2 separate regions of the Homo sapiens genome follow, and region 1 is linked to region 2. Evidence: fine-mapped expression QTL. Tissue or cell type: whole blood. Region 2 holds a variant in brackets; the other region holds the start of a gene. All regions are shown on one strand. Distances are between the middles of the regions.

What was found. PIP is the estimated chance that this variant, and not a neighbour inherited with it, causes the effect.
Region 1: it holds the start of SMPDL3A, and the variant in region 2 is fine-mapped to the expression of SMPDL3A in whole blood (TOPMed, PIP above 0.99).

What each region holds. Positions count from the first base shown.
Region 1 is chr6:122,785,638-122,794,731 of GRCh38, reverse strand. It overlaps SMPDL3A (sphingomyelin phosphodiesterase acid like 3A), which reads right to left and starts at 5,474. Exons shown (of 8, transcript NM_006714.5): 1 at 5,274-5,474. The coding sequence starts at 5,385. RefSeq lists a cis regulatory region at 3,474, enhancers at 3,390-3,559, 4,663-5,162, 5,163-5,664 and silencers at 3,754-4,048, 5,154-5,448.
Region 2 is chr6:122,757,461-122,768,518 of GRCh38, reverse strand. It overlaps a transcript of FABP7 not described here. Among named protein-coding and RNA genes, the nearest start is that of FABP7, 17 kb to the left of the region's middle. The variant C/T (reference allele first, on the strand shown) is at 6,476.

The DNA.
Region 1 (9,094 bases), 27 kb before region 2:
TGTTAATAAAATTAAGGGAAGCAGTTGTTAAAAAGGATGCTTCCATTGGGTTTTTAGGAAGCAGCCAAGCCCATTTGATAGCACCCTTACTTGGAAATCATCTTAAGAAAGTTTTTTTTTGTGTGTGTTTTTTTTGAGATGGAGTCTCACACTGTCTCCAGTGCTGGAGTGCAATGGCGTGATCTTGGCTCACTGCCACCTCCACCTCCCGGGTTCAAGCGATTCTTCTGCCTCAGCCTTCTGAGTAGCTGGGATTACAGGTGCACGCCACCACACCCAGCTAATTTTTTGTATTTTTAGTAGAGACGGGGTTTCACCATGTTAGCCAGGATGGTCTCGATTTCCTGACCTCGTGATGTGCCCGCCCCAGCCTCCTAAAGTGCTGGGATTACAGGCGTGAGCCACCACACCCGGCCAAGAAAGTTTCCTTTATTGAAGGTAATACTAGAACAAATAATCACAGTGGTATCTCTCTTTATTAAGTATTTTCTATGTGCCAGGCACTGTGATAAGCAATTTAAATATACTATGTCATTTGATTCTCAAAACTGCTCTCCGAACTGGGAATTATGGTCCTCATTTTAGAATTGAAAAACCAGTGCTGGGTCAAATAGAAAATTTGTTAAAGTATACACAGCTAATAAATCTGAACTCCCATACTGAAGGGCTTCCAAGTTTGTTTATACATCATTTATATATATATATATTCAATGATCCTTATAAACCATGTTCAAATTGTTTTAATAAAGAGATTTTTTTCCACACTTTTGGGTTTTTGAGTTTACTCTGATTATGACTAGAAACACATCAGAAGTGACAAAGTAGCATGTACTACACCAGAAGCACAGAGTAAACAGGTAGGATGCAAACTTTAAACTCTACCAATATGTTACAACTGAATAAAACCCAAAGCTGGGATAATAAGGTGAAACAGTTGATACGTTAAGGTGAAAGGGGTGAGTTATCTTTTGGTGGTTGTTTCTTCCCAACATAGTTGTCATTATAATTCCATGACATATTTATGTTCACAACTAAGAAATGGTAGACAAAAGATCCAGAAGAAAGTAGTAGTATGGTCAATTACTTGGCACTTAGTCACTATTTGAAAACATCTGACAAAAGCAATTTTATTTTATTCCATAATGCAGAAAATACCCCAATCTTTATTTCCATCTTAGATATACTTTACCCAGCACAAAAAGTAAAGATGGCAAATAGCTCAGAGTCATCCCAGAGAATCATTTTAACGTGAACATGTATTTGTATTATTTCGAGAATGTAAGGGTATAGTAAATGAACATGAAACAATACAGTGTCGTGGTTAAGAGTGGAGGCCAGAGTCAGACTGTTTGACTTCCAACCCAAGCTCCACCACCCACTAATCTTGCTATGTGATCTTGGCCTATTTCATTGATGAAATGGGAATAATAATAGTGCCTACTGTGAGAGTTAAGTGACTTAGTAGAAGTAAAGCCCTTAGAAGGTGTATGGAACCAAGTAAGCTCAATGTTAGTTTTACTGTTATTTTTTTAACTTCAAACCCCATTTCCAAGTAATACTTAAAATTCAAGTACTTATTACATGTTTAGTACTATTTTTTATGCTTCACATGTATGAGCTCATTATTATGTATACTCCATTTTACAGATAAGAAACTGAAGCACACAGAGATTAAATTCAAGTTACATGCATCATCTGCAACAGATCTAAACTATCATCTGCAACAGGGCTAAACTATGAATTCAGGAAATCTGACTCCAGAGTCCACATTGCCCTTATCCACATACAATTCCTCTCTGTGTTTTCACATTCAAATATCTCCAATCTCACTTGCCTCACATGAAAACAGATAATGAAAACGGGTACTCATGCCTGTAATCTCAGCACTTTGGGAGGCTGAGGCAGGAAGATCGCTTGAGCTCAGGATTTTGAGACCAGCCTGGGCAACATGGTGAAACCCCATGCCTACAAAAAATACAAAACTTAGGAAGGATCTCTTGAGCCAGGGAGCTTGAGGCTGCAGTGAGCCAAGATTGGGCCAAGGCACTCCACCCTGGGTGACAGAGACCCTGTCTCTAAAAAAAAAAAAAAAAGGGGAAGAAGAAGAAAGAAAACAGATAACGACAATATCTACACTCGAGATACTGTGAAGATTAGGGGAAAAGAGACTATAAACATATTCAGCATCTGTTTCAGTAAACCCAAACCTGAAATGCATTAAGAGTACACCCCTCTGATATAATTTAGTACCTAGATTTATATCGCCAGCATCTAGAATATGCATGACTTATAGTAGCCCTTCAACAAACATTCTTTAATTTATATATGATGACATTTAGGCAAAGGCAAATTTCATGATATCCTCAAGATCACAGATGACTCAGTAATGAAAGCTTAACTGGAACCAGTCTCTCCAGACTTCTAGTCTAGTGATCTTTCTACTGCATGGCATTCCAGACAGATAAATTAGGGGATAATCATTTAAATTCACTGAAAGATGTCTTTAAACAGAAGCCAAGAACAGAGCTCTGACAGGTTCTTAACCTGGGACTCATGAATAATGAACATCTGGAAGCCTCATGTCCCTCTCCTAACGAAACTGTGTGCCTATGTGTGTTTCCAAGGCCTGGCCTGTGGCAGAGCCCACACTCCAATCCATGTTTCCTAGTTCAAAGTCCAAAGTTCTGTTTACTACAGCACGTTTTCCTGTTCTGCAGACTATCTTTAAAAAGATTTCCAAGTCGGGCGCGGTGGCTCATGCCTGTAATCCCAGCACTTTGGGAGGCTGAGATGGGCAGATCACGAGGTCAGGAAATTGAGACCATCCTGGCTAACACGGTGAAACCCCGTCTCTACTAAAAGTACAAAAAATTAGCCAGGCATGGTGGCGGGCGCCTGTAGTCCCAGCTACTCGGGAGGCTGAGGCAGGAGAATGGCGTGAACCCGGGAGGCGGAGTTTGCAGTGAGCCGAGATTGCGCCACTGCAGTCCAGCCTGGGTGACAGGGCGAGACTGTCTCAAAATAAAAAATAAAATAAAATAATAAAATAAATTTTTAAAAAGACTTCCAAAAATATGTGTGTGTGTTCAGCAAATCTAGAAAAACTCTCAAAATTATACCAGAAAATCTTTTAATCCAAAATATTTTATAACTTCTCAAGAATCCAATGAACCATAGTTCAGACATAATTCAGCTCGCCTTATGCCTTATTTGAACATAGTTTGAACACTCAGCAGTATATGAATGGTTGAAGTATGGCTGCTGGGATTGGCCAAACTTAGCTATTGTTACCAGTGCATACTCTTAAGTTAGGTTTTCAGTCTCATCTGACTATTAAGCTAGGTTACAGTTCATTCACAAGGATTCAAATATAGAAGTAAGGAGTCCTTCTCAGGCCGTATTTAGTTTGCTTTAACAGTACCAATACACAAGCCAGTCCCAGCCTACTCAATCTAAAGAACTGTAGCCAAAAACACACAGGTGAAGCTTCCTAGAACTTCTGTCGTCCGACCACCAGGACTTGACAGGGCAGAAAACTAAGACTGGGAATTTAAACGCAAAAACACAAAACAAGAAAGCAGTAGCCAGGCAGGGTGGATGCTGAAAGGAAGTCCAAGCATGTGGGGCTGAGAGGAGGCAGGAGAGTTGTCACATCAAGTGGAAAATACGCAAAATATTACAAACAAGGAGAATTGTGAAACTGCTGAGTGAACACTTCAGACCTTTGAACTCCAGTAACACTTCAGACTTTCGAACTCCAGTGACTCCAGTAACACTTCAGACCACTGAACTCCAGTAACCCCTCTTCCTTCCCCTTTAGTAGGAGGGGATTCAACCTTGCAGTTTCCCAAACAGGAGGTGTGAAGACTCACAGAGTCCCCAGAAAGCGCTCATTCAGGCCTCTTTAAAACACAGGTGAATTTGCCATTGTGTGGCCTCAAGCAACGTGAGACATTTTATTTCAAAACCCTAACCGGTCACATAATTAAAGGAACACAAGCTAAGCCGTAATAAAAGCAGAAACCAGTATACATAAACATTTTGGGGAAATTTCTTGTAATGACTGACATTTGCCACAGTTCGGAAACCAGATTTACAGTTTTTGCTTCAGACCTGACAGCTGAGTCGTGAGGACTTGGCCTTCAAAGAGAAGATATTTGCCCTAGAGCGCTCCCAAGTCCTGAGAAAGCACAGAGGGAGCGAAAGAGGTTTCAGCACTAGGTGCTGCTACCGAGTCTCAGGGACAACTCTCCCCTAAAAGAAAACAGAACCCCACTTCTCTAATTTTGTTTTTCCTCTTAACAGTGCAATTATTTTTAAAGGGAGTTGAGGAGGTGAGGGCACCTTGATTTTTGGAACTGGAGGCTCGGATGGCATTGTACAATCTCCCACCAAAATGTATCTATTCTGGACCAGTGAGTCTCAAACTTAGCCGAAAGGAATCATGCGGAGGGTGGGTTAAACAGCATACTGTGGAAGCCCAACGCCGGCGTTTCAGATTCAGTAGGTCTGGGATGGGCTGGAAATTTGCAATGCTAACAATTTTAAGTGCGGCGGCTGCTGCCACCGGTCCAGGGCACACTTAAGAGAATCACTACTGTAACGGGCACTGTGTTAAGTGCTGGGAGTGAATAAAATGGGTCCCGCCCGCAGGAAACCTAGTGGACATCCAGGTGAAATGAAGTCCCCGTGAGTTCCACGGTAGACTAAGGGGTGAGTCTACCCGAGGGTGCTTTCGCGCTCTGGCTGGGTGAGTGGCAGAAAAAGCCACTGATCTCGGTCGAGCAAGACAGAAGATAGTGTGAGTCACGCTGAAATTTACTTCCCTGAGCTGGTGGGGAAACTGCAGTCCCCCTCCATTCAGGACCGATTAGGGGCCTCTTGCTGTGCTGGACATCGGACTCCCAGCTTCCTCTTCCCTTGAGTCCCGCAGCTTTTCCTTCCTTCCCCAAGGAACAAAACAACTGAGATGCAGGATGTAAACAAAAGCCAGGCTGGCGAAATCCGGCCGACGCGCCCTTGGAGCGCCCCCACCGGCGAGGGCATTTCCCCCGCCCAGCCCCGGCCTCCCGGCTGGACGCCCTAACGCTGTAGTCCCTTGGTCGCCCTCCCCGCGCCCACCAGCCGTGGTCAACGCCGGACGCGTCAGGGGCCCCGCTAGCCCGAGCCTCTGCCGGGGGCAGCTGCCCCCACGCACTTTCTCCTGCTGTGCGCAGGCGCCGCCGCTCCGCGCTCTTTGCCGGCTGGGAAGAGAAGGGTCGCGGACAACTCACCTATCGCCGGAGGAGGATTCCTGCCGCCTGCGGGCGCCACGGGCAGCCCGAGGCCGGAGCGGCAGTGCCAGGCAGTCAGCAGGCAGCAGACGAGTGCGCGCACCAGCGCCATGGAGGGCCGCGGGGCTGACCTGGAGGTTCGGGCTGTCCCGCAGCTCCACTCGGACCGTCAGGCCTGAGGGTGAGGCGGAGACAGAAGACGGCTGCGGGTGTAGACGTCCGACTGATCACGTGCAAAGGCAGATTCCGCAGCGAGTCAGTTCGCCTGACCTTCAGCTGCTGTTTAGCGATGATCTGTTCTCGTATTTCTTAGCGTCAGTGTTTGGCCTAGGAAGGAATGTACTTGTAGAAGCTCAAATTCCGACTCGTGTATCAGTGGTGCAGTTGATGTCAAACACTGACATACTGGTGCTTGGGGATAGAGAAAGACATTCAATTTAGTAAAAGCCAGAAGGAGGGAGAACAAGATCTCTCAAATCCGTGTGTAAAAAGGAAAAAGCAGGGAGTTTTTATTCTGCTAGAGAATAAGAGAGGGGGATTTTCAAAGAATCCAGGGGAAAAGTCTGTTTCTTCAGTCTCAGATAACACCTTTGAGCAATTAGACGTCCAGGCATCCGCAGCTGGTTGCAAAGCCCTTGGAGGTATTCATCCCTTCTGCAAACATTTTTGTGACCCTGAAGTTAACCTCTTTGTTCTTGACGAGGAAGCAGTACCTCAGCAGTTTATAATTATATTGTGGAAACAAGGAGAATATTGGGCAAAAAGCGAGTGGTTAAAATGTGCAAGCAAGCAGGAGCCTGATCAGAATTTTCATTATTTCAGTCACTAAAAAATGCTGGGGTGCTGAAATCTCAACGATCCCGGTTCCATTCTTGGGCCAACCTACCCCAGCTTTAATGGGTAGGGCTCCTCAGTAGAGGTGATGCAGAGAGCCCTGAAGTATCATGATTTGAAGGAAATCAGCAAAAGTTATGGATACTGCAGTGGATCTCGAATTGAAGTCTCTGAACTGGGAACATTAGCACCACCTGGGAACTCTAGTTAGAAATGCAAATTCCCAGGCACCACCCTAGACCTGTTGAGTCAGAAACCTGCTGGAGCCCAGCAGTTTGTGTTTTCACAAGCATTTCAGGTCATGTTAAAGTGATTGTGATGTTTGAAAACCAATGCTCAAAGATACGACGTTTTGTTTTTTGTTTTTTTTAAACTGCCGGGAAGAGAAGGGTCTTAGAATTAGAACATGTTCTGAAATCATGCTTTATGCATTCCAGAGATGCATGGAAATCATAAGTAGAGGTGGTTGATTTGATGCTTCCACGGAACTTTTTTGAATATACTTCTGGCAAAGAAGTAAGTCTATACAAAGAAGTAAGCAAAGATAAGTCTGGCAAAGAAGTAAGTCTATACAAAGAAGTAAGCAAAGATAAGTCTGGCAAAGAAGCCAGAATCCCGAAACTGTGCTGGATCCTGTATTCTGTGTTCCTTCTCTCACCGTTTATGAGGATGCTGATCTCTTGGAGATGACAAGCTAATAATTTAAATTTATAGGGCGTGGAATTCCTTTGCAGAAGAAAATGCTTTCCATAATTACTAACCTCAAAAAAGATGTTGTAGAGTGTATTTCTTTCCCAGCATAGAAAGCTTTGTTTTGTATCCCATGTAATTTAATGGGAGTGTGTGTCATGAAACGGGCTTTGAAGTGGGAAGCAAGGTGCTTCCATTTTCTGTTTTGTAAACCAAAAATAAAATTTGAAGGCCCCCCACAACCATCTGAATGGACGACCATCTGTATGGACTCTTTCCCCAGTCAGGGCACTCTAAAATTTAACCTGAAAGACTGGTTCAGGCCATGAAAAAGGGGATGGGGGGGTTGGACATGCGTAATTAACATCAACATAGACCATAAGTCTGATAAGAAACATTTAAGATCTGTTTTCTCTAAAGCCTGCTACGTGGAGGCTTCGTCTGTGTGACAAAATCTGGGTCTAACAACCCCTTATCATAACCCAGACATCCTTTCTATTGATAATAACTTTTTCAATCAACCAATTGCCAATCAGGACATGTTTAAATCTTCCTGTGATCTGGAAACACCCACCCCCCGCCCAGCTTCAAGTTGTCCTGCCCGTCTAGATCGAACCAATGTAAAAATCTTACATGTATTGATTGCTGTATCATGTCTCCCTAAAATGTATAAAAGCAAGCTGTATCCTGACCACCTTGGGCACATGTCAAGACCTCCTGAGGCTGTGTCACTGGCCCATCCTTAACCTTGGCAAAATAAACTTCCTAAATTGATTGAGACCTGTCTCAGGTACTTTTGTGTTACAGTTTCAAGTCCTGCCAGGGCAGCCGAAGTCCTGCTTCAGCTTTTGGATGATTCAAAAGCTTGCAAGAACCAAAGTGCATTCCAGTGGAGGACAAGATGGTCCCTGGAGTTTCTCAGTTCACAACCTCTAGAATATGGGAGAAAATGGAGCCAGAAAAAACTGGTGAGCTGGTGAGAGAAAACGACTGTAAGGATTAACAAAACAACTTAGGAGTTTTTAGTCCAAACATTTAAAGCTAGGAAAAGGATAAATTATAAAAATAGCTCTTTTCACTCCTTTTTTTTTTTTTTCCAATTTCAATATACTTTACTGGAAGTAACTGGTTGCAAAATAGTTTTTCAGTAAGCATAAAACAAGGCATACACATTTTGAAACTTAAGAAATGTTTGAAATCCTAAAAAGTACAGTATATTAAAATTAGTGGGTAGAAACACCATCCTTCTTTCTACTCACTCCACTTTCTTTTTTTTTTTCTTAATACTCACTAAGAAGCAAAAAACTACAGTGCCCCAACATCTCTACAGGCATATCTCAACCATGGGCATATATTTGTAGGTCTCCATGTGCCAGGTGTACAAATATGTCATCGTGAGTGTGTATATCTGGGTGAGGGAAATCACATGAAAGAAGAGCAGAAGCTTCACAAAACAGCCTTAGCTTAGTTTGTATCATTGAGACCTTCGTATCATTTCAGAAATGTTCTTCCAGGGCCTGTTGGTCAAATTGCCTTTGGTCTTGGTCATTTTTCCTTTCCTTTAATTATGTTTCTTAACTATGTTAAGAAACAAAACAAAGACGGCAAACCAGAAAAGTTAGTGCATTGACAGATTGACAGTGTGAAATAGAATTTGGTTTGAAGAAAAATGATTTGCGACTACCCAGAAAAACTTAGGAAGCAAACATGTTAATTATCTTCCCTCTTAAAATCATTTGTTCTACCACTGCAACCCTTGATCTTTCAGACCATTGCATCTTTGTTTCCCATTTAGGCCACCCAAAAACCTTTTCATTCTTCACTCTGGGAGACAGTTGTTATGGAAACTGGTGCCAGTGTTATTTGGCTTCATTTTAATGAGCTAAAGATAAATCTCTATCTTTGGCTTTGTATCTTTAATAAGAGAGAGGCCAGAATCTGGGCTTCTGGTAGAGTGTAGGCTGAAATCCAGTTGTTAAACAGCCCTCCACCAGAAGCAGAGATGGTGGCTGTCAGAACAGTTGGAGCCAACAACCTGTTCATGTTGTGTTTCATGCTTTTAAAGACGGGTAAACTGAGTGCAGTGGTATGTGCCAGTAGTCCCAGCTATTCAGGAGGCTGAAGTAGGAGGATTGCTTGAGCACAGGAGTTTGAGACTAGATTGGGCAGCTAAGCAAGACCCCATCTCTTAGGAAAAAAAAAAAAAAGAAAATTTTCTCATACTTATAGCTGTAAGTTAATTGAACATTTTTTTTTCTTTTGAGACAGAGTCTCTCTCTGTCACCCAGGCTGTAGTG
Region 2 (11,058 bases):
AATCTCATGCTCATCACTTGCTTTTTTGCTTTTATTTAGTTCAGTGCATCTACATATTTTCTTAAAACATATATACCAATGTAATCTTCATAAAATGTTTTACATTGTTATGTAATATGCTAGGAATTAACTTTTTTACATGTGCAATAGTTTATTTTGGGCACATAGTTTGAATTGAAATTGATGGATCATTGATTGGTCATAGGTTAATCTTCAGTTTTAGAAGGTTATGCCAAATTGTTTTCTAAAGTGGACTCACCAATTTATACTCTCACCAGTGGATCAACATATTCCCCAATGCTTAATATTGACAGAGTTTCAATGGTGACCAATCAGATGCATATACAATGACATCTAATTTTTTCTTGACTTGTATTTTCCTAATCATGAATGAAGTGAACATATTTTCATATGTTTAATGGTCTATGATTTCTACCTCTGTGAAATGTCTGTTCTCCTGCCCATTTGCCTGTAGGTTAGTTGTGTTTTTCTTATTTTGTATTGTTGATCCTAATTTTTGTAGTGTGGGAGTCATGAATATATTCTTCCAGTTTGTAACTTACTTTCACTTTCTTTAAAGTAGCTTCTTATGACCAAAAGTTCTTATTTTTAATATTGCCAAATTTATTAATATTTTATGTCATTGTCAATATGTTTCATGTCTTATTTAAGGAAACCACCTACCCAAGGTCCAAAAGATATTCACTTATATTTTCTACCAAGCCCTTTTTTTCTCTCTCTCTCTTCTTTTTTTTTTTTTTTTCCTTTTAGTGGAGAACAGGGTCTTGCTATGTTGCCCAGGCAGGTCCCAAACTCCTGGGCTCAAGCTATCCCCCCACCTCTGTCTCCCTAAGTGGGGGAATTACAGGCATTAGCCACTATGCCTGGCCACCAAGTGATTTAAAGTTTTAACATTTGAACCGTTAACTTGCTGGAGTAGATTTTTGTATATCATAAGAAGTAGGGTTTTAAATTCACTTTTGAATATGTAGATAATAATTTTTTCCAATCCACTTATTGAACATTTCACCACCTAAATGGAATACCATCTCTGTGATTTACCGAAGTCCTCTATGTATTTTAATATATTTCTCTGAACCCTCTTTAATTCCACTAATCAATTAGGTTTGTAACCTTCTAACATTGCTAAGCTGTCAATTTTTATAGCCTCATGACAGTCCTAATAACCGGAAAAGCAAGTCTCCCAATTTGTTACTCTTCTTCAGAAATATCCTATTTATGGCCCTTAATATATGTATATATGGTACTATCATTTTATTATCATCCATAAAAAATTATGTTTTTACATTGGAATCATATCTATTTTATATATTGATCTGGAAGAATTGATACTTCTATGATATTGACTTCCTAGTCATGAAAATGATATACTTTTTTACATATGTAGTCATTAATATTGCATAATAATGTTTTATAATTTCCCCTGCAGGGCTTTTCTACATATTTTTTAAGATTTATTCTTAGATAATTGAGGTTCCCTGAGACTACTGAAAATGTTGTCTTCCCTTTAATTTTCTATTAGTTTGTTACTGTTATATAGAAATACAACTGACTTTAGCAAACATATTATATCTAGTCTGCTTGCTACACTATTCTATTATTTGTAACAATTTGTAGAATATTTTTCAATGTAAATGATCATAAAACGTGCAATTAATGGTATTTTAATTTCCTCCTTTCCAGTTTAATATTTCTTACAATATTATTGCACTGAGGACTTCAATTCAGTTTAAATATAAGCTACCATACTGTGTATTGTTGTCTCATTCTTGATTTTTCCAGGAATGCTTCTAATGTTCACCTATTTATATCACTTCTAGATGTTAATTTTCTATAGAAAATCACTTTTTAGTAGTAAAACCTTTCCCTAAAATTCCTGATTCCCTAATCATTTTTATTATGAATGTGTATGCTGGTGGGTTATATGCTCTTTATCATCTAATACTGTATGGACTTTAAGACCTAAAATAAAACAAGCAAGTCTTTGATCTACTCTACCATCTGCCTCCAGGATGTGGGATGCTAGGTCTGTGCCAACCAGAAATCTGGCAATATATCTTTCCTTGGATATTATAAACAGAAACACTACATTCTAGGTGATTACAGCTGTGTTCCTTCTTTCCTGCACAGTCTTTCTTCTTTCTTCAACCACTCAAAGTTAGAGAAGGACTGAATGTAGCATATTGTACCCTAAGAAGTGTAGTACCTACATAAAAGTTGCTGTCATCTTGAACAAATACTTAAAAACCACTTGAAGCAGCAACTAATGAATATGCATACAATATGTTAAAAAGCCTCAGGGAAGTAGGCAATAGGTGTAGAAAATATCCCAACTCATTTCACAGCAGTTTCTAAACTGGTAGCTGATCCTCTAAACCTATTCTCTAGCTACATATTTGAGAGCAGAACTCTATCAGTTACCATATGACAGCATGTTGAGGGAAAGAAAAAAAAGATCCTTTCCTGTTGTTTGTAACAAAATTTCAGGTCTTGATAAATATTTCTCTTTGCTTGAATAAGAGAAGCAAAATATAATCAAATCCAGCATGAAATCTGTGGGCAGAGCTATAAAAACAATAAAGTAGTAGAGGCCACATTATCTTGAAGACAGAGAATAAGAGTATATTCTCAGAAAATGATCAAAGCAAAAAGAAGAAAAAAAAGTCTCTTTGGCATATCAGTAGGTAGAAGTGGCTTCTATGACACAGGAGCAAGGATTCCTAAGAAGAGAACAGATTGAAATTTTAAAAATGAGCCAGATGAAAGGGAGGTGGGGAGGCTAAAATTAAAAAATAAAATGAGGTAATGAAAAAATTAAAGAAAATTAATAATTAAATAGAAGGAATCAGATCAACATAGGAGACAGTAATGAATAGAATGCCATTGTTTGAAGAGAACTTTCAGAATGCAGAGACATTTTGAATAGTGAAAATAAAAATATTAGACAAGACAGAATAGATAGCCTAAGAGGCACAGATTACCAAGAATGACATCAAAAGAACTGGAATATAAAATATATGCAATAAACAAAAGCATTATTGAGGAAACCTTTCATTTGCTGAAAATAGGCTATATATATATAGATACATATCTAAATCGATCTATCTTTATCTAAACTCTCTATGTAAGATAGATAGAGGTCAAAATGCCATGCCAGCTGATTTGGTTAATGAAAAAAGGACCTAAACTTTCTCATTCTAGCAGTATTTTGAATCAAATATAATTCAGATCAATAAATATAAAACATAAGTGAAAAAATCCAATAAACATTCAATCAGAGAAAAAGATGCCTGTAATGTCATAAGAAGTATGATTGCCCATAGTCTTTTCCATTGCAGAATTGAGATACCAAATGAACACACAGCAATGTTACAAATGTTTTGAAAAAGCTGAGACTCATTTTTTTCCCATTACATGTGCCTGTAAAAGAAGATTTTTCTCTTTGAAAATCAATCAACTGGCATTCTCATTATAATGTTTTCATGTTACTTATCTGCAGGAAGAAACTACATTAGGCAGTGGACTTGGTAACACCATTTACTCTGCAATTATATTTCCCTTGCAAATTAGTAAAGTCTGATTGCATACAACAGTCTTGACAGCCTAGTTGCTTGAGTCTGCTGTTTGAGACAAGATCAAGTTTTGCTGTCAAATCATGTTTCAAAATCCTCAGGATTAAGTCTAGATTCTGAACAATGGCAAACACTTTAAGGCAATGATCATCAACTCGTAGAAAAGACAAACATACACACATCCCTTTCCAAAGGGAAGGGTCTTGCATGTGGGCAGGGAAGATGTATTCAGTTTCATAAGCCATGTTCAAAATTGCCATCGTTTTGACTTACAACATCAAGGGAAGATATGCAGTTTTTAACAAAAAGGGGATGGGTCATAAATGAAACAGTTCATGAGTTCCTTTGAACATCTTTTCTTTGTCTTGTTTGTTTTCTCTTTTTTTTAATTATACTTTAAGTTCTAGGGTACATGTGCAAAATGCACAGGTTTGTTACATATGTATACATGTGCCATGTTGGTGTGCTGCACCCATTAACTCGTCATTTACATTATGTATTTCTCCTAATGCCATCCCTCCCCACTCCCCCCACCCCATGACAGGCCCTGGTGTGTGATGTTCCCCTTCCTGTGTCCAAGTGTTCTCATTGTTCAATTCCCACCTATAAGTGAGAACATGAAGTGTTTGGTTTTCTGTCCTTGCAATAATTTGCTCAGAATAATGGCTTCCAGCTTCATCCATGTCCCTACAAAGGACATGAACTCATCCTTTTCTATAGCTGCATAGTACTCCATGGTGTATACGTGCCACATCTTCTGAATCCAGTCTATCATTGATGGACATTTGGGTTAGTTCCAAGTCTTCGCTATTGTGAATAGTGCCACAATAAACATACGTGTGCATGTGTCTTTGTAGCATGATTTATAATCCTTTGGGTATATACCCAGTAATGGGATCACTGGGTCAAATGGTATTTCTAGGTTTAGATCCTTGAGGAATCGCCTTCCTGTCTTCCACAATGGTTGAACTAGTTTACACTACCACTAACAGGGTAAAAGTGTTCCTATTTCTCCACATCCTCTCCAGCACCTGTTGTTTCCTGACTTTTTAATGATTGCCATTCTAACTGGTGTGAGATGGTACCTCATTGTGGTTTTGATTTGCATTTCTCTGATGACCAGTGATGATGAGCATTTTTTCATTTGTCTGTTGGCTGCATAAATGTCTTCTTTTGAGAAGTGTCTGTTCATATCCTTCACCCACTTGTTGATGGGGTTGTTTGATTTTTTTCTTGTAAATTTGTTTACATTCCTTGTAGATTCTGGATATTAGCCCTTTGTCAGATGGGTAGATTGCAAAAATTTTCTCCCATTCTGTAGGTTGGCTGTTCACTCTGATGGTAGTTTCTTTTGCCGTGCAGAAGCTCTTTAGTTTAATTAGATCCCATTTGTCTATTTTGGCTTTTGTTGCCATTGCTTTTGGTATTTTAGTCATGAAGTCCTTGCCCATGCCTATGTCCTGAATGGTGTTGCCTAGGTTTTCTTCTAGGGTTTTTATGGTTTTAGGTCTAACATTTAAGTCTTTAATCCATCTTGAATTAATTTTTGTATAAGGTGTAAGGAAGGGATCCAGTTTCAGCTTTCTACATATGGCTAGCCAGTTTTCCTAGCACCATTTATTAAATAGGGAATCCTTTCCCCATTTCTTGTTTTTGTCAGGTTTGTCAAAGATCAGATGGTTGTAGATGTGTGGAATTACTTCTGAGGGCTCTGTTCTGTTCCATTGATCTATATATCTGTTTTGGTACCAGTACCATGCTGTTTTGGTTACTGTACCCTTATAGTATAGTTTGAAGTCAGGTAGCATGGTATCTCCAGCTTTGTTCTTTTTCCTAAGGATTGTCTTGGCAATGTGGTCTCTTTTTTGGTTCCATATGAACTTTAAAGTAGTTTTTTTCCAATTCTGTGAAGAAAGTCATCGGTAGCTTGATGGGGATGGCAATGAATCTGGAAATTACCTTGGGCAGTATGGCCATTTTCACTATATAGCATCTTCCTACCCATGAGCATGGAATGTTCTTCCATTTTTGTCCTCTTTTATTTCATTGAGCAGTGGTTTGTAGTTCCCCTTGAAGAAGTCCTTCACATCCCTTTTAAGTTGGATTCCTAGGTATTTTATTCTCTTTGAAGCAATTGTGAATGGGAGTTCACTCATGATTTGGCTCTCTGTTTGTCTGTTATTTGTGTATAGAAATGCTTGTGATTTTTGCACATTGATTTTGTATCCTGAGACTTTGCTAAAGTTGCTTATCAGCTTAAGGAGATTTTGGGCTGAGACGATGGGGTTTTCTAAATATACAATCATGTCATCTGCAAACAGGGACAATTTGACTTCCTCTTTTCCTAACTGAATACCCTTTATTTCTTTCTCCTGCCTGATTGCCCTGGCAAGAACTTCCAACACGATGTTGAATAGGAGTGGTGAGAGAGGCCATCCCTGTCTTGTGCCAGTTTTCAAAGGGAATGCTTCCAGTTTTTGCCCATTCAGTATGATATTGGCTGTGGGTTTGTCATAAATAGCTCTTATTATTTTGAGATATGTCCCATCAATATCTAGTTCATTGAGAGTTTTTAGCATGATGGGCTGTTGAATTTTGTCAAAGGCCTTTTCTGCATCTATTGAGATAATCATGTAGTTTTTGCCATTGGTTCTCTTTATATGATGGATTATGTTTATTGATTTGTGTATGTTGAACCAGACTTGCATCCCAGGGATGAAGCCCACTTGATCATGGTGGATACGCTTTTTGATGTGCTGCTGGATTCAGTTTGCCAGTATTTTATTGAGGATTTTTGCATCAGTGTTCATCAGGGATATTGGTCTAAAATTCTCTTTTTTTGTTGTGTCTCTGCCAAGCTTTGGTATCAGGATGACGCTGGC[C/T]TCATAAAATGAGTTAGGGAGGATTCCCTCTTTTTCTATTGATTGGAATAGTTTCAGAAGGAATGGTAACAGCTCTTCTTTGTACCTCTGGTAGAATTTGGCTGTGAATCCGTCTGGTCCTGGACCATTTTTGGTTGGTAGGCTATTAATTGTTGCCTCAATTTGAACATCTTCTTTTCAAAACTTGAAAAACAGAAAAGAATTGAGTTAAAATTGATTTCTTTTTCAGAAAGGATTAAATTATTATTTTATGAAGTCTTCTCATTTAGAGGCCATGAGGTTTTGACTTCATTTATTCCAAAATTTGATACTTCTTTGGGTAACATATTTATTTTCTACATTTAAGTATGTGTTATCAATTCTTTTGCTCTCCTTAAGATAGCTGTGGGTTTCAAAATAATTAAAACAAAACCAAAATGAAGCAAACTCTACAACCCAGGGATTAGCATTTTTAATCATAAGTCTGTTTGGATCTAGTACTTAGATCAATTAATATAATAATCTTTGACTGCCCTATATTGAAATCCTATTACGAGAAGATTTTCTTGTTTTGACTCTGAAAGATTACTGGCCAGGTTCAAAATACAGGGTGCATCTTTACATAAATGATATAGTCTGGCCAGTTTCAAAACACAGGGTATATCTTTAGATAACCTAACTTCTTTAGCATATAAGTAATGGTCTGAAAATCACAGTGTTACTCTGGATCATCTCTTAGGTTTCTTCTTTGTCTAATGTCCTAGAGTTCTTTGGTATTTCTATAGTATTTGGCTCATTTTCAAATTTAACCTCATAGAAACCCTATCAGACAAGTTAAGAGGTCTTCCACTGTGTATGTTAACAGTCACCTTGCAGGAAAACATTATCTCATACCTCAGGAAGCAGTTATCTAGATGCTCTCACGATTCAAGTTCAAAGCAAACGAAACAATTCTACCAAAATAAAACTTTGAGATAGAAAATATTTTTAAACTTTTAAGAGACAGAATTGGGGAAGAGGGACAGAACTAAATAGTTATGTTTGAGTTCACAGATAAATAAAGCTAACTTTAACCTGGAAGTCTCATAAATCTTGCTTTGACATGAATTTTAATAAAAATCTGATTAGTTAATGAGGAACCATGTACTAATCTTTTACAAAGCTGCAAAGCATTCATTTAAGTTATAATAGTGATATATCACTATTATATATTCATTTTCTCATTTCTAGCATTTTGCAGTTTTTATTATATCAATTTTGGCCACTATTATATATCAAAATTGTTTGATTTAAATATCATTTAAATTCAATATAATGTTACAGCAAATTAAGATATTTGCTGTTTGTAAAAAAGAACCACTTATAAAAGATTAGTTTTACAATGTAAATCACTCCCCAATCATATTTTTCATAGTCAAAATCAAGTGAAAAGAAGTATAGCTAATAAGCCAAAAGTTGCTATAAATTACTATGCTAAAGAAAATTCAATTAATCTAAAAGAAGGCAGGAACAGAAGGAAAAAAAAAACAAAGAGCAGATGGATAGGACTAAGAGAAATCAAAGAGCAAGATGGTAGAACTTAAAAAAACAACAACAGGCCCCAAATTATGCTGTCTACAAGAAATTTACTATAAATATAAAGTCACATATGTTAAAAGGATGAAGAAAATGTATCATGCAAATGCTAATGATAAGGAAGCTGGAATGGTTATATTATGAGATAAAGTAGACTTCAGGACAATGAACCTCACTGGGGACAAAGAGGAACATTTTACAGGATTAAAGTATCAATTATTCAATTATTTCTTGAAAGGGGCATGAGGGAACTTCTTAACAGTGATGGAAATGTTCTCCATCTCGACTGACTCTTTGAATACTTGGGTGTGTACCTTGGTCAAAACTATTAAACTGTACACTTTAAATAGGTACAATTATGGTATGTAAATTATATCTTTTTTTTTTTTGAATCAGAGTCTCGCTCTGTCGCCCAGACTGGAGTGCAGTGGCAACCTCCGCCTCCTGGGTTCAAGTAATTCTCCTGCCTCAGCCTCCTGAGTAGCTAGGACTGCAGGCACCCGCCACCACACCCGGCTAATTTTTGTATTTTTAGTAGAGATGGGGTTTCACCATATTGGCCAGGCTGGTCTCAAACTCCTGACCTTGTGATCTGACCCCCTGGCCTCCCAAAGTGCTGGGATTACAGGCATGAGCCACTGTGCCCGGCCTGTAAATTATATCTTAATAAAGTTTAAAAAAAAGAAAAAATGGCATTTCCAAATGAATCATAAGTGGGCTAGAGTAGTATTGTAGCATAGTTATTTAGAGCATGTATGCTTGGCCAGACTGCCAGGGGCTAAATCCTGCCTCCTTATATTCCTCACCATATATAAAATTAACTAATTTAACTTCTCTGTGCCTCAGTTTAATTTTAAAATAAGCATTATTGTCACAGTTAAACAGTAGTTGTAAGGACTAAATGAGTTACTACAAATAAAGTGCTTAGAAGAATGTCACAGCAAGTACTCAATCCATGTTAGCTATTATTAAATTCTGTATCCTCTGATTAAGCCTGATTAAGATTGGATGCTTGTAATGATTTGTAGCATTATTTTAATGCATCAAAAGGAGAAAAATAGGAAGAAAAGAAGAAGGAAGAAAAATAGCCCTTTGTTGGAAATCAGTTTTTAACCAAATTAACTAGAATTTATTTGGATGTCTAGATTTTTAGCTTGAGCAATGACAGACCTCTTTCTGTAATTGAATTTGCATAGCTGACACACACCCTATGGGGGAAGTTTGTGGCCAAATACCGAGAACAGTTTAGAATTGTTGGCAAGAATTCTTGCTACCTGATTTGGAAACCCCCATGAGGAACATCTAGGCTCTGTACTGTCATACTCTACAAAAAGGAAAGGCTTCATAAGTATGTTTGAATAAATTAATGAATGGGAGAGCATGGAATTCATTCTAAGTATGTGAAACCTAGTGGCCCTGCTTTATAACTTCATAAAGGAAAAACTCAAGAAGAGAACAGAATATTATGTTGGTCCCAAGGGAGCTTGTTTCTTTAAGTAACTCTTTAGAGCATTGTGTAGCTCTACCATTTTCCACTATAAGATTTAGAAGCAGTCATGCTAATTGCTGTCCTATTGAGCAGTGGTCCCTAAATAATTTTTATGTTTTACCCCATCAAAAAAGTTTGACAACCTGATATATGTATATTTATTTATTCATAACTTATATGCACATATTACCATATTAACATAGTGTGAACATTATAAAACATATAAAATATAATGTGGAGACAATGAGATGAAGATGACATAAGTAATATTTTTATATATTGTCTTCCTAATTGTAGATGGCTTCATAATACTGTTGGCTACAATTTCAAAGCCCAGCATATACTTAGGGTAAGGATTATCTTCAGGAACAATGGACATAAATTCACATTTCAAGTCATCCTATAATTATGAACTTTCTTAGCGATTTTTTTTGTTAAAACTATTTATATGGCCCAAATTTATACCTTAGAATTTGATTGACAAGAACTTGCACTAGGAATAGAACACCTATCAGCACTCATCTTTTGTTGTTAGACTGTACACATAGCATTAGCATTGTCTTATATCCTCAGTTGTTTTACAGACATTCTCCCAGTCTTTTAGTCTCATTTTAATTAAAACTAGATAACACTGGGAGGCCAAGGTGGGCGGATCATCTGAGGTCAGGAGTTTAAGAGCAGCCTGGCCGACATGGCAAAACTTTGTCTCTACTAAAAATACAAAAATTAACCAGATGTGGTGACACATGCCTGTAATCCCAGCTACTTGGGAGGCTGAGACAGAAGAATTGCTTGAACCCAGGAGGCAGAGTTTGCATAGAGCCAAGATTGTGCTACAGCATTCCAGCCTGGGAACAAAGCAAGACTCTGTTAATTAAAAAAAAAAAAAAAAAAAGCTAGATAATATAATTCACAAATTTACTTAATTTGCTTTATTGCATTGCAATGAAGTAAAGCCCAGTAAGGTAAAATGGATGAAAAGTGAGACTGCCCCTGTCCATTGTTCACTCTGTCCTCAGGATACTATGAAAAGTGACTGACACATGTCTAAGTAAAGGACCAGTGTCAATCCACATATAAATCTTAGTAAAGATCAAATTCTATCTCATTTTATATAAAATTAAATAGTAACGGGAATACTAATATTTTCTTCTTTTAGTACCTTAATATTTTATTCCGGCACCTTAACAGACTCCTTGGAACGCATGCACCTCCCCTAAAGGAACCAGCCAATCATGAAAGAAAGCCTGCAATCCACACAAGTAGGAGAGAAGCCTCAAGGTTAGCGGGTACAAATTTTCAGCGCAGACCTACATATAGTAACGTATTTCTTTGTCTTGTTTTTATCTGAACTTCATTACTGACTCAACTTCTCATGTGTATCTAGTAGCAGAAAGCTCTATTCAGTCACTTTTCTGCAAACTCTGTTTAATTTGTGATTATTGAGGGATTTGAATGTTTTGCTAAATCAATTCAAGGACTCCCTCCTCCTCTTCTACGACATTGCATCTAATATCTGAGGACAGGGCATGACATGACA